2 separate regions of the Homo sapiens genome follow, and region 2 is linked to region 1. Evidence: fine-mapped expression QTL. A gene starts in region 1. The other region holds a variant in brackets. All regions are shown on one strand. Distances are between the middles of the regions. Region 1 holds the start of MARCHF2 (membrane associated ring-CH-type finger 2). Region 2 overlaps MARCHF2 (membrane associated ring-CH-type finger 2).

Region 1 (2,907 bases):
CTCAGCCTCCTGAGTAGCTGGAATTACAGGTGCCCACAACAAAACCCAGCTAATTATTTGTATTTTTAGTACAGACAGGGTTTCACCATGTTGGCCGGGCTGGTCTCGAACTCCTGACCTCAAATGATCCAAGTGCTGGGATTACAGGCATGAGTCACTGCACCTGGCCTTTGAATGGGCTCTGGGAATTACATGATAATATTAGATGAACATTAATTTTCTGATTTTGAAGGTTATACTGTGATTATGTGCAAAAGTGTGCTTATACTAAGTGAACATATAGTGCAGTATTTTTTTAAAAATTGATCTGTCTTAGAGATGGGGGTGGGTGAGTTTACTATGTTGCCCAGACTGGCCTCGAACTCCTGGGCTCAAGTGATCCTCTTGCCTCAGCCTCCAGAGCAGCTGGGACTACAGGCCTGGGCCACCACACTTGGCTAACTTTTATTTTATTTTATTTTATTATTTATTTATTTATGTATTTATTTGAGACAGAGTCTCACTCTGTCACCCAGGCTGGAGTGCAGTGGCGCGATGTCGGCTCACTGCAAGCTCTGCCTCCCGGGTTCACGCCATTCCTCTGCCTCAGCCTCCCGAGTAGCTGGGACTACAGGCGCCCGCCACCACGCCCGGCTAATTTTTTTGTATTTTTAGTAGAGACGGGGTTTCACCGTGTTAGCCAGGATGGTCTCGATCTCCTGACCTCGTGATCCGCCCGCCTCGGCTTCCCAAAGTGCTAGGATTACAGGCGTGAGCCACCGCGCCCATCCTTTTAAATTTTTTGTAGAGACGGGAACTCACCATGTTGCCCAGGCTGGTCCCCAACATCTGGCCTCAAGCGATCCTTCCGTCTCGGCCTCCCAAAGTGCTCCGATTACAGGCATGAGCCACTGCACCCGGCCAGTCTCAAAAAAAAAAAAGTTAAATTCTGCAGAGGTTTTATTTATTAGAGGACGCTGGCCGTCTGCAGGTGGCGCAGCAGCACCCCCTCGTGCCTGGGGCGGGGCTGGGGCGGGGCCAGTGCTGGGGCGGAGCCGGAGCTGGGGGCGGAGCCAAGACGCGGCAGGGGCGGAGCCAGCAGCTGCGGCACAGCGGGGCCTGTGCGGCCCAAGTCGTCCCTGTGGCCTCCGGCCCCGCCTCTTAGGGCGGGACGTGCAAGGCGATTGGCGAATGCAGGCGAGAGGCGGTCGCTATTGGTCCGCGGCGCTGTCGGCTCGGCGGGCGGTGCCCGGACGCAGGTGCCGGCCGGAGCGGAGCTAGTGGCGCCGACGGGCCGGGCCGGGCCGGGACCGGGGCCGAGGCGAACCGAGGGGCCTGTGCGGCCGCCCGGCCCGGCCGCGGATCAGGTAGGCACGGGCCTGCAGGTAGGGCCGGAGGACGCCAGTCCGCGGGCCGGCCCCGGGTTCGAGGCCGGAGCTCGGCACCCGGGCGGGACGGCTGGGCTCGATCCCTTGGCCACAGCCTTCTCGGGGACGCGGGGACCTCAGTTCCCGTGTCAAGGCCGGTGGGAGGTCTCCGGGGTCCGGCACACATAGGCGCCTCTCCGAGCCTCGGTTTCCCCACCTGTGAAACTGGGTCATCCCATTGCCAACCTGATGGGGCTTCTGGGAGGATTCAGGAGGTGGCTGGTGCAGAAAACGCCTGACACACAGTAGGCAACTGCTAAGTGGCCAATGCCCTTCCCCAACCTCCTTCTCAGAGCGGCTCTGCCTGCAAAATAGTAAGTTATAATATAATGACCCAGCCACTTTGCACAAAGATGCTGAAACAGGATGCCCTGTGCTATGTGGGTGCTCAAAACGGGGTAGTCAAATGGGCATGTTGAGCTCATTCAGTTCTTTTGAAACCATACTGAGTAGGTGGAAGCAGTAGAAATGTCCCCTGTTATACAGTTGAGAGAGTCCAGGCTCAAAGAGGTTAAGTGTCTTGCCCAGGGCCACACAGCACATAAGGAGTAGAGCTGGGATTGGAACCTTGCTTCTCATGCAGGGAGGAATGAATGCAATAACAACCTCCACATTTACCCTAAAAAATATTAATAGAGCTTTTATTGAGCACTTACTGTGTGTGCCAGGGTTGACTGTGTGACCTCTCATCAACAACTCTGTAAGCTGATGATAGTAATTATAATAAGAGCTAATAGTTATTAACTTCTTAATTTTTTACTAATTTATGAACTACATATCATTATGACTCCCCGTCTTTTTTTTTTTTAGACAGAGTCTCTCTCTCTTGCCCAGGCTGGAATGCAGTGGCACGATCTGAGCTCATTGCAACCTCTGCCTCCCAGATTCAAGCGATTCCTACCTCACCCTGGTCAAGTAGTTGGGATTACAGGCCCCCGCCACCGTGCCTGGCCAATTTTTGTCTTTTTAGCAGAAACGGGGTTTCACCATGTTGACCAGGCTGGTCTCGAACTCCTGGCCTCAAGTGATCCACCTTCCTTGAACTCCCAAAGTGCACAAAGTGCTGGGATTACAGGCGTGAGCCACTGCGCCCGGCCTGTAACACTCATTTTAGAGATGATAATACTGAGGCTGAGAGAGTAAAACAGCTGCCTGAGACCACAATGTAGGGAGTTTTAGGGCCCTCTGATTCCTCTGCCCTCTGTTTCCTACCTTCAGGAAAAGGAGCCTGGGCAGGTATGGAAAAGACTGGGGGGCCTCAGTGCCACCCTAAACAAGCCTAGCTAAGGGTGAGCTTTACTGGATGAATTCAGCCTGGAGGCTCCTTCTCAGGAGACCCCTCCACGGACAGAGTCCACCAGCTCCATCATTAGAATGAGGCCCAGAGAAGCAAAGTGACTTGAACCAGGACACCCAGCATCGGTGGCATAGCCAGGAGGGCCAGGAGTTAAAGAACCCAGGTCTCTTGAGGTCCAGAACCACTCCCTGGACTGTTTTAAGT
Region 2 (2,907 bases), 21 kb after region 1:
TCCCAGTATTTTGGGAGGCTGCAGCAGGAGGATCACCATAGCCCATGAGTTCAAGATCAGCCTGGGCAAGATGGTGAGACCCCATCTCAAAAAATAATAATAGGGGCTGGGCATGGTGACTCACGCCTGTAATCCCAGCACTTTAGGAGGTTGAGGCAGGCAGATTGCTTGAGCTTACGAGTTTGAGACCAGCCTGGGCAAAGTGGCAAAACCCCATCTCTAGAAAAAATACAAAAGTTTGTCGGCCGTGGTGGTGCGTGCCTGCAGTCTCAGCTACTCCGGAGGGTGAGGTGGAGGATCGCTTGAGCACTGGAGGCAGAGGTTGCAGTGAGCCGAGATTGCACCACTGAACTTCAGCCTGGGTGATAGAGCCTGACCTTGTCTCGAAGAAAATAATAATATTAATAAAAGAAAAAGGAAAAAAAAAAGGCTGGGTGCAGTGGCTCATGCCTGTAATCCCAGCACTTTGGGAGGCTGAGGGGGGCATATCACTTGAGGTCAGGAGTTCAAGACCAGCCTGAGAAACATGGTGAAACCCCGTTTCTACTAAAAATACAAAAAATTGGCCAGGCACGGTGGCTCACGCCTGTAATTCCAGCACTTTGGGAGGCTGAGGCGGGTGGATCACGAGGTCAGGAGTTCAAGACCAGCCTGACTAACATGGTGAAACCGTGTCTCTACTAAAAATACAAAATTAGCTGTGTGTGGTGGCACATGCCTGTAATCCCAGCTACTCAAGAGGCTGAGGCAGGAGAATCGATTGAACCTGGGAGGCAGATGTTGCAGTGAGCTGAGATTGCACCATTGCACTCCAACCTGGGCAACAGAGCAAGACTCCGTCTCAAAAAAAAAAAAAAAAAAGAAAAGAAAAGAAAAGAAAAATTAGCCAGGTGTGGTGGCACATGCCAGTAATCCTAGCTACTCGGGAGGCTGAGGCACAAGAATCACTTGAATTTGGGAGGTGGAAGTTACAGTGAGCCAAGATCGTGCCACTGCACTCCAGCCTGGGTGCCTGAGTGACAGAATAAGACTCTGTCTCAAAAAAAAAAAAAAGAAAAAAAGCCTGAATGAGAGACAGACAGAATGATGGGGGTGTGAGGTATTGTTCTAGGCCTCTGGTAGGCAGCAGAACCCTTGCTTAGAGGCAAAAGCTCCCCCAAATCTCACCCCTCAGACATAACCACTATTGTCCAGCTGTAGGGGAGTCCCTGCCTCACAAAGTATTTTTCAATGAACCTACCAGCATTT[C/CT]TTTTTTTTTTTTTTTTTTTTTGAGACGGGGTCTTGCTCTGTCACCCAGGCTAGAGTGCAGTGGCACAATGTTGGCTCACTGCCATCTCCGCCTCCTGGGCTCAAGCGATTCTCCTGTCTCAGCCTCCTGAGTAGCTGGGATTACAGGCATGTGCCACCACACCCAGCCAATTTTTATATTTTTAGTAGAGACGGGGTTTCGCCATGTTGGCCAGGCTGGTCTCGAACTCTTGACCTCAGGTATCCACCCACCTTGGCCTTCCAAAGTGCTGAGATTACAGGCATGAACCATCGCGCCCTGCCCCTACCAGCATATTTTAAAATATGTAAATAGGATGAAATCATAGCTACTGTTTTAGCATCTGCTTGTTTTCATTTTGCTGGTGTTCTTTAAAAAAAAAAACCCACACACACAACGAGGCAGCCACCCAGCAGACATTCATTGTATGGGTGGACCATATTTATTTAACAAATCACTTTTGACAGGCACTGGGATTTTTTCCAATGTGTGTGTGGTTTTATTTCTACTTCCTTGTTTTTTCCATTATGAACAGTGCTTTGGGACTGTCCATGCAAATGTTTCTTGGGAACTTGCTTGGTCAAAGGATGTGAACCACTGACCTTTATTTATTTATTTATTTATTTAGCCGGAGTCTCACTGTGTCGCCCAGGCCAGAGTGCAATGGTGCAATCTCAGTTTACTGCAACTTCCGCCTCCCGGGTTCAAGCAGTCCTCATGCCTCAGCCTCCCGAGTAGCTGGGATTAAGGCATCTGCCACCATGTCTGGCTAATTTTTGTATTTTTAGTAGAGACGAGTTTTCACCATGTTGGCCAGGCTGGTCTCGAACTCCTGGACTCAGGTGATCTGCCCACCTTGGCCTTCCAAAATGCTGGGATTATAGGCGTGAGCCATTGCGCTAAGCAACATTTATTTTTTAATTTTTTTTTTTTTTTTTGAGACAGAGTCTCGCTCTGTCACCAGGCTAGAGTGTAGTGACGCGATCTTGGCTCACTGCAACTTCTGCCTCTCAGGTTCAAGCAATTATCCTGCCTCAGCCTCCCGAGTAGCTGGGACTACAGGTGTGCGCCACCATGCCCAGATAATTTTTTTTATTTTTAGTAGAGACAGGGTTTCACCATGTTGGCCAGGATGGTCTCGATTTCTTGACCTCGTGATCCGCCCGTGTCTGCCTCCCAAAGTGCTGGGATTACAGGTGTGAGCCACCACACTAGGCCATTTTTAAATTTTTTTATAGACTAATTTTTAGAGCAATTTTAGGTTCACAGCAAAATTTAGCAGAAAGTACAGAGAGTTCCTGTATATCACCCTGCTCCATACGCACACAACTTGCACAGCCTCCCCCACTATTAACATCGTTTACCCAAGCAGTGCATTTGTTACAATCAGTGAACCTTCATTATCCCTTTAAAGCCATAGTTCACATTAGGATTCACTTCTTTTGTTTGTTTGTTTTGAGATGGTATCTCGCCCTGTCTCTCAGACTGGAGTGCAGTGGTGTGATCTCCGCTCACTGCAACCTCTACCTCCTGGGCTCAAGCGATCCTCCCACCTCGGCCCTCCCAAGTAACTAGGACCATAGGTGCCCACTACCACACCTGGCTAGTTTTTGTATTTTTTGTAGAGACAGTGTTTTGCT

What was found. PIP is the estimated chance that this variant, and not a neighbour inherited with it, causes the effect.
Region 2: its variant is fine-mapped to the expression of MARCHF2 in prefrontal cortex (BrainSeq, PIP 0.91).

Annotation. Positions count from the first base shown.
Region 1 is chr19:8,412,075-8,414,981 of GRCh38, forward strand. MARCHF2 (membrane associated ring-CH-type finger 2) reads left to right here and starts at 1,231. Exons shown (of 5, transcript NM_001005415.2): 1 at 1,231-1,346. RefSeq lists silencers at 848-1,207, 1,238-1,397 and an enhancer at 856-1,356.
Region 2 is chr19:8,432,833-8,435,739 of GRCh38, forward strand. The region is part of intron 4 of MARCHF2 (membrane associated ring-CH-type finger 2); the gene reads left to right. Among named protein-coding and RNA genes, the nearest start is that of HNRNPM, 11 kb to the right of the region's middle. The variant C/CT (reference allele first, on the strand shown) is at 1,249.